Regions from separate parts of the Homo sapiens genome. Here all the other regions are linked to region 1. Evidence: fine-mapped expression QTL. A gene starts in region 1. Each other region holds a variant in brackets. All regions are shown on one strand. Distances are from middle to middle.

Evidence for each region. PIP is the estimated chance that this variant, and not a neighbour inherited with it, causes the effect.
Region 2: its variant is the best candidate, but not a certain one, in a credible set for the expression of CD96 in whole blood (INTERVAL, PIP 0.74).
Region 3: its variant is the best candidate, but not a certain one, in a credible set for the expression of CD96 in whole blood (INTERVAL, PIP 0.86).

Annotation. Positions count from the first base shown.
Region 1 is chr3:111,540,099-111,544,350 of GRCh38, reverse strand. CD96 (CD96 molecule) reads right to left here and starts at 2,154. Exons shown (of 14, transcript NM_005816.5): 1 at 2,042-2,154. The coding sequence starts at 2,102. It overlaps LOC105374039 (a long non-coding RNA gene), which reads right to left. Exons shown (of 3, transcript XR_001740846.1): 3 at 2,348-2,416.
Region 2 is chr3:111,645,925-111,650,176 of GRCh38, reverse strand. It overlaps CD96 (CD96 molecule), which reads right to left. Exons shown (of 14, transcript NM_005816.5): 13 at 2,511-2,634; 14 at 1-479. The coding sequence ends at 371. Among named protein-coding and RNA genes, the nearest start is that of PLCXD2, 27 kb to the left of the region's middle. The variant AG/G (reference allele first, on the strand shown) is at 2,084.
Region 3 is chr3:111,640,834-111,645,085 of GRCh38, reverse strand. All of the region lies in intron 12 of CD96 (CD96 molecule), which reads right to left. Among named protein-coding and RNA genes, the nearest start is that of PLCXD2, 32 kb to the left of the region's middle. The variant T/A (reference allele first, on the strand shown) is at 2,274.

The sequences.
Region 1 (4,252 bases):
CAACACGGCAAAACCCCGTCTCTACTAAAAATACAAAAATTAGCTGGGCGTGGTGGTGCACGCCTGTAGTCCCAGCTACTTGGGAGGCTGAAGCAGGAGAATCGCTTGAACCTGGGAGGCGGAGATTACAGTGAGCCGAAATCATGCCACTGCACTCCAGCCTGGCAACAGAGTGAGACTCCATCTCAAAAAAACGAAAAACGAAACAAAACAAAAAAAGTCACACCTCCAGTAAAAGAATGAATTCAGTTGCCCAGAGTCTGTGGTCTTTCTATAACCCTCATAAGTATAACAGTAAAACTCCAGCCAAGGAAGACAAAGAGACCTTTAGAGACCAAAGAGAACTTTATTTAATTCAGGCATCCAGGCCCACAGCAGACTCATGCCCAAAATGGCTGCTGACTCTGACAAAGAAAGCAGGCTTGCTTATATGTCGTTTGAGGTGGGAAAACAAGGCAGGATACAGGTTTCAGGCAAAGACAGTAAATTATTTAACCCGTGACAATTCTGAGAAAACTTACAATTTAGTTATCTTAACCAGTCAATCTTGAAGCTAGACAGAGATGGGGTAAGGTAAAACAGGAGTTACAGAAATATGTGGGGGTCTGGGGGCAGGCAAGAAGCTTGGAAGGTTGAGATAAGCTCACAGCTGCAACTTGTTAGCAATGCTGGGAGGGGCTACTTAAATTTCTTAGCCTACATATAACTTCTAAGTAACCTATACTTAATGTTAACTATTACCTATGTTATGCTTATTATTTTAAACTTTATTATTACTTATTTTATTTTATTTTCCTTCCACATAACTTCCAAACTGTCTCCCAAATTCAGTCTAGTTGATTAGAGTAAGAAATTTCACTTTCAATATACAAGGATTGAAAGGACCTCATCTAACCTTAGGTAGAGGTTCCACTTAGTATCACCTCTAATCGATGGTCTGAAATACTAGACATAAGTAGAGTCTCTTTCCCATCAGCAGTCTGACTGAGTGATACAGGACACTTAAAATGTGTTAAGCATTGAGACTGTGACATGCCTTCAATAGTGTTGGCCTCAGTTTTAGAATTAACATGGAATCCTGTTACAGAAATGATATATATTATTGTGACAAGTACCACTGAAGCTCACAAAAGGAAAAGATAAAAAGATGACAAGCAACTGAGAAGAAACAAGCCTCTTAAAAGTAAAAGTACTTGACAAATGGGAATTATCATACTTCTGTGGATGCAAAAGTTTGGTAGGCAGAGGTTAGTACAGTTTAATGTAACTTCCTGTGAGCTATCCTTTGCCTGAAAATATGGCTCTGATCCTATCTACAGCATTATATTCCAAATCTCTTTTGATTTAGAAATTCTCCTTAATATTTTCATAGCTATGTCTGAAAAGCACAGTTAATTCTTAAGACACTCAGGCTTACTATGATACTCTCATACTGTGGAATACAGAACTAATCTTGCTTCCTTCTCTTTTTAAATAGGCCCATTAGGCTCTCGTTCCCACTGTCATAAGGATTCCACTTTGTCTCCCAGGTTCATACCTACACATGCCTCATTAAAATTCAACGTGTTTTCAACTCCCAAAGACCTTAGTATTTGGATGAGAAATACTTGTTATATCCAAAAGAAAGAGAGTACTTGAGAGAGAAAAAAGTTAAACAAGGATCTCTGAGCGTTGATGGCTTTGTAATTTTTAATTTTTCCGCAGTTGTTTTGGCTACCATTTGGAGAGCATTTCATTTCCAAGAAACACAATTTGCCAATTACTCCAGAGATCCTGTTAGAAAGGAAATGGGTGAAAATGCCTCAGAGCAGTGGCACAAATGACCCATTCCCTTCTTATTTTTAGTGTTCATTAGTAATCATTTCTAGATTCTAGCATCTCTCTTATACCTGCCGCTTAAATACATAACTGAAACCCTTAGTAATGATTTGTCCTTTGGTGATCAATTTCAGCAGCAGTCACAAGGCATTTTAAATGAACAGAGGCCCCATCCGCCCCTAAAGCGGCCCATCCGACAAGAAGGGACAACTGGAAGTCTTACCCTTGACAAAATGTATCTGGATGATGTAATAGACAGCACAGTATTTCCATTTTTTCTCCATTGTCTTCTGAACACCTTACACCAGCATTTCTGTAATGATCACAAAGTCAATTGATGTTTTCAAGCAAACTCCAGCCACCCACTTCGTGCTAAAAAACCCGAACTCTACCACACACGCCTGGGTCTGTTTATCACTTGGCAAGCCCCCAGGAAATGAAACGTAGACAGGAAAGTAATGTGGTTCAGGACTGAGTATAACGTTCGACAGAACAATGTTGAAATTGTTCTCTGAAATTTGTGTATCACCTTATTTAAGAGACTTTTCAGTATCCAAAGAGTCTCTTATTCAGGATCTCTGTGTCAGTCAAGCTGCGTCTAAAATCCAAACAAAGGATATCACGCAGAGCAGTTGGCAATGTGCTTTTTATACATTTTTTTCAAGAGCACAAAGTCATTTAACAAATGTGAGCTTGGTGTTTTTCATAATAGTTTTTCTGTTCAATCTTAAGATATGTTTTCTTTCCAGAATTGCCCTGGGGTGAAAGAACAAAGAATTAACACATTTAATTTTAATAAAATCTGAAAAGTAACAGGGAATAGTGTCAGCTATCAAACCAAATTTTATTGTCTCTCCTCTTGCAGGGAAATGCACATTTCCTGGGAGTGGAGGAGTGAGGGCTACTTTTCTACCCCTCGTCTGGGAAGACGAGGGAAGGTTGGAGGTCAGATAGGGAAGTCTCCCACCAGGTTGGCTGGAGGCCATTTTTGTTCACCACAGAAGAGTTTATCCATGCCTAAGCCAAAGCAAGGCAGTAACAATCAGAATCCAAAGGCAGAGAATTCCCACCTCAGTGAGCTATTAGGCTTATTACATCTGCCTAGTTACTTCTATTTACAGAGAACCGCAAACAGGTTTCAGGAAAGTGACCCCTTGGTAAAAATGTCTGGCTATTCGTAGAACACGATGACTGTTCCCTGCTATGATTCTCTGATTTAATTGTATTAGTTTTTCAGCCTGAGATAAAATAGGCTGTCATCACCCTCCAACATTAAGAAAACAAGCATTAGACTGAGGACTACTGTAAGTTTGATGGACAAAGAATAACTACAAATAAACATGTGTGTCTTCATACAACCGTATGAATGATTAAAATATCCTGTGACCCTAATCTCATTACTAGAATATACGTACCACCTAGCAAGACCAAAGACAAATGAAAAGGCCAGTTGTAATCCTGAGATGGGAATTCTTTTCAGGTGAGGTGGAGATAATTTTCGTCAGGTTGTCATCATGTATACACCAATCTCTCCTATGCAAGGACTCGTGGTGAATATGGACGATGCTAAGACAGAAGGAAATGCTTTTGCCATTCAGGAGATTAAATTTAGATGGGAGAAGAGAGGTTTTCATGTAAATAAACAAGGGCGACTGTCTTCCTGGACGTCCAGATCACCCCCTATACCACCACTGCAAATACTTGCCATGATAATTGCCATACTTATTCAGTATTCCTCAGCTAATGATTTCTTGCAGAATTTAGATGTAGTTACTGCTTGCCTAGTCCAGTGCTCCCCAAACCTTTATTATCACCCCTTCCCAACTTCCCATGAGTTTCAGGTCACTGGGGATATTGGGTCAGGTAGTACTGACAGTGATTTTCCAGGGAAGGCCTGGGAACTCAAAGTCCTTTATAGAAGGTCAGGAAGAGACATAACTGCTCTGGGTAGCTTCATCTCTTCCCATTGCCCCTGGAAATTCTAGTAAATCAAAGTTTTATGAAGCATAGCAGCAAAAATAGTCCTGGAGATGCACTATGAAGATCCTGATTTGCACGTTGGTGTCCCTATTAAATCAGGACACATTACAAGCCTGGAGAAGGGATTCTATGATCTCGTTCCATTTTTCATATTAAGAGGAATTTACCTAAGTAGAAACCAATTCAAATATACATTTATTGAATTCTCTAAGAACAATACCCTCTTTGGGGTATTTAGACTTCTCCTATCTTTTATTGTATTAAAGTGAAACAGTTGTTCCAAAAAAGTCTGTAAACTCAGAAACATGGAAATGGTCGTTTATTTTCCAGTGCTACAGACTTACTTTCAGTAGAATTCTTGCCTCTCATTGGGGTTGGGCTACCTGAGCCATGCATTTAGTGGCTATACGGCAAATCTGTCTTCTGTGTATTGTTCAGGGCTTAGTTAATGATT
Region 2 (4,252 bases), 110 kb before region 1:
TGTTCAAATAAGAGGATCAGGCATGGGCATACAGTTGAAACCATTGTTGTCCCTCCATCAGAGAATTTAAATGAAAATACTGTATTTTTTTTTAAAGATGGCAGACTAATATGTACTTCTTACATAAGCAAGAAAACCACTACGAATTGCATTGAGTGTGAACATGACATATCCTCTCACTCTTGGTTAAGCTTCAGGCGTTTGGAGATGGAAGAGGGTGAGTTGCTGGGAAAACAGGTCACTCACTTCTGACTTCCATTTCAGCTGCAGCAAAGGCATGGCTGAAGAGCGACTATATTAATAAAGCACAATGTCTACCTTCTCAATAGGATTCCAGCAGAGTTCTGCCATGGGGCAAAGTCTCACGAGACTAGAGGGTCTCCATCTCATGATAAGGCAGATCACTTTCGTTGGGCTCTTGAATGCAAGTGTACTTGATGGGAGGTGGTGGTGGCTTGAAAGGTGGAGGTCTTTCCATTCTAGGAACAAAATATTGGTCTTTCAATGCTAAGAATTGAGGGAGTCTTATGCACACACACACACAGACATGTGTTGTTTCTTTAAAGGAGAACACAGATTGATGAGAAAGAGACATACTCTCCCAGTTCTTTCAGCATTTTTGCTGGCATAACCCTGTGCCTGTTAGTCACATTTGAACCTCATGATCTATACGGTATTTTGTAGTTTGCAAAGAATTTTTATCATAACATTATTTACTTTGTATGTAGAAATTGCCTCACCATCTACAGATAAAACTGAGCATTTTTATCATAACATTATTTACTTTGTGTGCAGGAAATGTATCATAACATTATTTACTTTGTGTGCAGGAAATGCATCACCATTCTACAGATAAAACTGAGGCTCAGAGGTTTTAAACAACTTGCTCAAGAGAACCAGACCAACAATTCAAGTCTTTTCACCAGAACTGATACTCTCCATGACAACTGCCTCCTAATAGAAGAAATGTTTCTTTTATGTGGATTAAAATATTCCTCCAGAGACTAAATCTTAAAATCCTAGGATTTAAGACTGAAGCTTTTCATACAGCCTCTTTGCTAACCCTAGCCCCAGCCTTTGCCCAAACACTCACTATGTACTGCGGGGATAGGGTAGAGATGGGAAGTAAAGCTCTTCTCAATCCCCGAGTACTGGCTAGATAATGCCTAAATCCCTTTTGTTTGAATCAGTGAACATTCTTAAAGTCATCTTTGTACAAAGAACTATTTTATGTTAGTACAAGTAATCTCTTTTTCCGAAATGCATTAAAGAGCCAAGTTAGTATGGAATTTAGCTATACAAATGCTCTAGCTATCTTGATATCAGGCAACAGAAATATATCTGTGAACATCTTTATGTTCATCACTCAAACACCTCTATGCCCTGGCAATCCATAGCATCTTAGGAGAGATAAAGAGTGGGTAGTGGGGGAAGGAGGATAGAGAGATTGATTCTCATCTCCATATAAAACAAACATTTGAATACAGAACAATTTAAAAAATCAGTTCAGATTTTCAGATTTCATTTGTTCATTTAATATAAAGCTCTCTAATCCCTATTACCCAATTTTTAGATGCTTTAATGGAGACTTCATATGTATTAATAGGTAATTCTACGAAACATGCACTTTTGTTTTACTTTTGTTTTTTGGGGAATTATGAGTTTCTCAAGGTCATGTGGTGGCCAAATTGTAGTCCTTGGAAAATAATCCAGAATTTCTAACTACTGGTTTAGTGTTTTGTTCACCACTCCCTGTATGTGGTTACAGAGTCTTCAAGGATACTCTGCAAAAGGTAGGAAAGTATATGGCACAATGGTTAATGTTATCTTAGAGTAGTAGTAAGACAAGTGGAAGATCAGTTCTGGGTACTGGGGTCCCTTCCAGTTATGGCCCAACCCAGACTGACTCAAAATAGCAAGTCAGAAAAATGAGGCTTAACCTTATGTACCATTTCAGACTGCCGATTGGAGAAGGCTTTTGGAAAATATTTCAATAAGACAAAAATGGGGTAACCCAATGCTTACTTTCTTTTCTGCTTGGGAAAAAAAGAAAAGGGCAGTAAAAGCCCACTCTGGTAAAAAA[AG/G]CAGCTGGAAATCTCTTAAAATTACCTTTCTCACTCAATTTCACACTTGAGCATCTATGACCAGTGGAGCCTAGGCAGTTCAAAGATGCATGAAAATGAAAAAATAATGAAGATTAAAAGAAAAATCAGTTTTAGTTTTGAGGAGAGGTGAGGCTCAGTTCTCATTTCATGTCCACGGACTTGCTCTATCTGACGAATGTTACAGCCTGACTAGGCCAATGCAGAGAGGGATACTGAGTCAGGAGTTGTGTATTTAATCCCAACTATGTAATGCTGGGAAAGCTATATAATCTCTCTGAGCTTCTGTGAGCATTATTTCCCCATTAAAATATGGGAGGAACTTCATAGAGTAATAATATATTGTACTGATGAATATTTTATAATGAAAAATTAATCTGTTCCTACATATGTTAGTATTATACTCACATTTCTTTTTGGTACTGACACCATTTTCTCACTCCAAGACCAAACAATATCATGCAGCAAAAGAGTAAAGCTGCTACAATCACTGGCCAGGACATTCCATCTTTGGGCTTATTGACCACAATACCTGAAAAGGGCATAAAGAAAGATGAACTTTAATCCCAAACTTTGGCATTTGGAAAACAGGATTAAACCATTTTTCCTACGTGAAACATATTTTCTTCAACATTGGCTGTGATCATACTCTGGAGGTGGGCATGTCTAAGCCTTGTTACCTACATGAGGTGATAACTTTTAAGAGTTAATTACGTACCCTACCAGAAATTTTCTGTGGATATATATAAGCATACATATGTACCATGAATATATACCCTTTTTATTACAGTTGGGGGCATATTATACACACTATTCTGTCCATGATTTCTTTTTCTTTTTTTTCACTATTTTAGGTTCAGGGGTACATGTGCAAATTTGTTATATAGGTAAATTATGTGCTGTGGGGATTTTGGTGTACAGATTATTTTGTCACCCAGGTAATCAACAGTGCCTGACAGGTAGGGTTTTTTTTTTTTTTTTTTTTTAATCTTTACCCTCCTCTCAACCTTCAGTAGGCCTCAGTGTTTGTTGTTCTTGTCTTTGTGTCCATATGTACTCGATGTTTAGTTCCCACTTAATAGTGAGAACATGCTGTAGATGGTTTTCTATTCCTGTGTGAGTTTGCTTAGGATAATGGTCTCCAGTTCCATCCATGCTGCTGCAAAGAATATTATCTCATTCCTTTTTATGGTTTCATAGTATTCCATGGTGTATATGTACCACGTTTTCTTTATCCAGTCACTGTGGATGGGTGTTTAGGTTAGTTCCATGTCTTTGCTTTTGTGAATAGTGCTGTGATAAACATACGTGTCCATGTGTCTTTATGGTAGAACAATTTATATTCCTTTGGGTATATATCCAATATAATGAGATTGCTGGATCAAATAGTAATTTTTTTTTTAAGTTCTTTGAGCAATAGCCAAACTGCTTTCCACAATGGCTGAACTAATTTACATTCCCACCGGCAGTGTATAAGCATTCCCTTTTCTCCACATCCTCACCTGCATCAGTTTCTTCTTCTTTTTTTTTTTTTACTTTTCAGTAATAGCCATTCTAACTTATGTGAGATGGTATCTTATCGTGGTTTTAATTTGCATTTCTCTAGTGATTAGTGATTTTGAGCTTTTAAAGTATCCTAAGAAGGTAAAAATCATTTTACATTTTTAACATTTTACATTTTACATGTTTTTTTAAGAATAAGAGGCCAAAAGACATACACCTGGCCTCTTTTTCTTAAAAAACATTCTTGGAATACTTTCCATATCACCACACAGAGATTTACCTCATTCTATTAGATGACTGGATAGTTCAATGGATATACCAGTTTATTTAATTTATCTCACGATGTTAGATGGTTAAATTGTTTCCAGACTTTGTTATTGCTAATGATACTCCAGTGAAATTTCTTATACATGATAGATAGGTCTTTAGGTATTTCGATTACATGGATCATTTGGGCAAAAAGCTATCTGGATTGGTTTTCTTTCCTTGTCTCGGCTAGGTAGTAACTGCTTGTGAGTGAAGACAAGGATTTAAATTTATTTCATTGCCCCGTTTTTATTACACTGCTTTTCATATAGCAAAATCTCAAAAAATACAGGTCAAAGAACTAGATGTAATATTAGTTATCACATCTTTTCTGTGTTTTT
Region 3 (4,252 bases), 100 kb before region 1:
TGAATTGTGCTGCTATAAACATACATGTGCAAGTATCTTTTTCGAATAATGACTTCTTTTCCTCTGGGCAGATATCCAGTAGTGGGATTGCTGGATCAAATGATGGCTCTACTTTTAGTTCTTTAAGGAATCTTCACACTGTTTTCTATAGTGGCTGTACTAGTTTACATTCCCACTAGCAGGGTAGAAGCGTTCTCTGTTCACCACATCCATGCCAACATCTACCATTTTTTTTGATTATGGCCATTCTTACAGGACTAAGGTGGTATCGCATTGTCATTTTGATTTGCATTTCCCTGATTATTAGTGATGTTGAGCATTTTTTCATATGTTTGTTAGCCATTTGTATATCTTCTTTTGAGAATTGTCTATTCATGTCCTTAGCCCACTTTTTGATAGGGTTGTTTGTTTTTTTCTTACTAATTTGTTTGAGTTAGTTGTAGATTCTGGATAGTAGTTCTTTGTCAGAAGTATAGATTGTGAAGGTTTTCTCTCACTCTCTGGGTCATCTGTTTACTCTGCTGACTGTTCCTTTTGCTGTGGAAAAGCTCTTTAGTTTAATTATCTTTGTTTTTATTGCATTTGCTTTTTATCTTTGTTTTTATTGCATTTGCTTTTGGGTGCTTGCTATTTATCTTTGTTTTTATTGCATTTCTTTTTGGGTTCTTGGTCATGAAATCCTTGCCTGAGCTCATGTCTAGAAGAATTTTTCCAATGTTATCTTTTAGAATTTTTAGTTTCAGGTCTTAGGTTTAAATCCTTAATCCATCTTGAGTTGATTTTTGTATAAGATGAGGATCCAGTTTAATTCTCCTACATGTGGCTAGACAATTATCCCAGCACCATTTATTGAAAAGGGTGTCCTTTCCCCACTTTATGTTTTTGTTTGCTTTGTTGAAGATCAGTTGGCTGTAAGTATTTGGGCTTATTCTGTTCCATTGGTCTATGTGCGTATTTTATACCAGTAGCATGCTGTTTTGATGACTATGGCTTTATAGTATAGTTGGAAATCAGGTATGTGATGCCTCCAGATTTGTTCTTTTTGCTTAGTCTTGCTTTGGTTATGTGGGCTCTTTTTTGGTTCCATATGAATTTTAGGATTGTTTTTTCTAATTCTGCAAAGAATGATGGTGGTATTCTGATGGGTATTGCATTGAATTTCTAAATTGCTTTTGGCAGTATGGTAATTTTCACAATATTGATTATACCCATCCATGAGCATGGGATGTGTTTCCATTTGTTTGTGTCATCTATGATTTATCTCAGCAGTGTTTTGTAGTTTTTCTTTTAGAGGAATTTAGACTCCTTTGTTAGGATATTCCTAAGTATTTCATTTTTTTTTTTTTTTTTGCAGCTATTGTAAAAGGGGTTGAGTTCTTGATTTGATTCTCTGCTTGGTTGCTGTTGGTGTATAGATGAGCTACTGATTTGTGTACATTAATCTTGTATTCGGAAACTTTGCTGAATTCTTTTATCAGTTCTAGGAGCTTTCTAGAGGAGTCCTTAGGGTTTTCAAGGTAAACAGTCATCATCAGCAAACAGTGACAGTTTGACTTCCTCTTTACTGATTTAGATGCCCTTTATTTCTTTCTCTTGTCTGATTGCTTTGGCTAGGACTTCCAGTACTACATTGAAGAGGAGTGGTGAGAGTGGGCATTCTTGTTTTGCCCTAGTTCTAAGAGGGAATGCTTTCATCTTTTCCCCATTCAGTATTGTGTTGGCTGTGGGTTTGTCATAGATGGTTTTTATTACATTAAGGTATGTCCCTTGTGTGCCAATTTTGCTGAGTTTTAATCATAAAGGGATGTTGGATTTTGTTGAATTTTTTTTTGTATCAATTGAGATGATCATGTGATTTTTGTTTTTAATTCTGTTTATGTGGTGTATCACATTTATCGGCTTGTGTATGTTAAACCATCCCTGCATCCCTGGTATGAAACTCACTTGATCAAGGTGGATTATCCTTTTGATATGTTGTTGAATTTGGTTAGCTAGTTTTTTTTTTTTTTTTTTTTAAGGATTTTGGCATCTATGTTCAGCAAGGATATAGGTCTGTAGTTTTCTTTTTTGGTTATGTCCTTTCCTGGTTTTGGTGTTAGGGTGATGCTGGCTTCACAGAATGAATTAGGGAGGATTCCTTCTTTCTCTATCTTGTGGATAGTGTCAATAGGATTGGTACCAATTCTTTTTTGAATGTCTGGTAGAATTCTGCTGTTAATCCATCTGGGCCTGGACTTTGTTTTGTCGGTAATTTTTCTTTTATTTATTTATTT[T/A]TTTTTTAGGCGGAGTCTCAGTTTGTCACCCAGGCTGGAGTGCAATGGCACAATCTCTGCTCACTGCAACCTCTGCCACCCAGACTCAAGCAAATCTCCCACCTCAGCCTCCCAAGTAGCTGGGATTATAGGCGCCTGCCACCATACCTGGCTGATTTTTGTATTTTTAGTAGAGACGGGTTTTCACTGTCTTGGCCAGGCGGGTCGTGAACTCTTGACCTCATGATCCACTGGCTTCAGCCTCCCAAAGTGCTGGGATTACAGGCATGAGCCACTGAGCCACTGCGCTCAGCCCTTGTTGGTAATTTTTAAATTGCCATTTCAATCTCGCTGCTTCTTATTGGTCTGTTTAGGGTATCTAATTTTTCCTGATTTAAGCTGGGTGGGTTGTATTTTTCCAGAAATTTATCCATCTCTTCTAGGTTTTCTAGTTTATGTGCATAAAGGGGTTCACAATAGCCTTGAATGATCTTCTGTATTTCTGTGGTGTCAGTTGTAATATCTCCCATTTCATTTCTTAATTAGGTTATTTGGATTTTCTCTCTTCTTTTCTTGGTTAATCTCACTAATGGTCTTTCAATTTTATTTACCTTTTCAAAGAACTAGTTTTTGTTTCATTTATCTTTTGCATTTTTGTTGTTGTTGTTTCAATTGTATTGTGCTCTGATCTTGGCTATTTCCTTTCTACTGATGGATTTCGGTTCAGTTTGTTCTTGTTTCTCTAGTTCCTTGAGGTGTGACCTTAGATTGTCTGTTTGCACTCTTTCAGATTTTTGTTGTAGGTGTTTAGGGCTGTGAACTTTCCTCTTAGCACCACCTTTGCTGTATCCCAGAGGTTCGATAGGTTGTGTCATTACTGTCATTCAGTTCGAAGAATTTTTAAATTTCCATCTTGATTTCATTTTTGACCCAATGCTCATTCAGGAGCAGGTTATTTAATTTTCGTGTATTTGCGTGGTTTTGAAGGTTCCTTCTGGAGTTGATTTCCAGTTTTATTTCACTGTGGTCTGAGAGAGTGCTTGATATAATTTCAGTTTTCTTAAATTTATTGAAGCTCATTTTATGGCCTATCATATGGTCTATCTTGGAGAAAGTTCCATGCACTGTTGAATAGAGTGTGTATTCGGCAGTTGTTGGATGAAATGTTCTGTATATATCTGTTAAGTCCATTTGTTTCAAGGTATAGTTTAAATCCATTGTTTCTTTGTTGATTTTTGGTTTTGATGACCTGTCTAGTGTTGTCAGTGGAGTATTGAAGTCCCCCACTATTATTTTGTTGCTGTCTATCTCATTTCTTAGGTCTATTAGTAATTGTTTTATAAATTTGGGAGCTCCAATATTAGGTGGATGTATGTTTAGAATTGTGATATTTTCCTGTTAGACAAGGCCTTTTACCATTATATACTGTCCTCTTTGTCTTTTTTAACCACTGTTGCTTTAAAGTTTGTTTTGTCTGATATGAGAATAGCTACCCCTGCTCGCTTTTGGTGTCCATTGGCATGAAATGCCTTTTTCCACCCCTTTACTTTAAGTTTATATGAGTCCTTATGTGTTAGGTGAGTCTCCCGAAGGCAGCAAATAGTTGATGGGTAAGTTCTTATCCATTCTGCTGTTCTGTATCTATTAAGTGGAACATTTAGGCCATTTACATTCAGTATTAGTATTGAAATATGAGGTACCATTGCTTTCATCTTGCTCTTTGTTATCTGTGTACTTTGGATTTTTGTTTTTGCTTTTTAACTTGTATTTTTGTTTCATAGGTCCTGTGTGATTTATGCATAAACAGGTTCATTTTGATGTGTTTCCAGGATTTGTTTCAAGATTTAGAGCTCCTTTTAGCAGTTCCTGTAGTGGTGGTTTGGTAAAATTCTCCCAGGATTTGTTTGTGTGAAAACAACTGTATCTTTCCTTCATATATGATGCTTAGCTTCATTGGACACAAAATTCTTGGCTAAAAATTCTTTTGTTTGAGGAGGTTC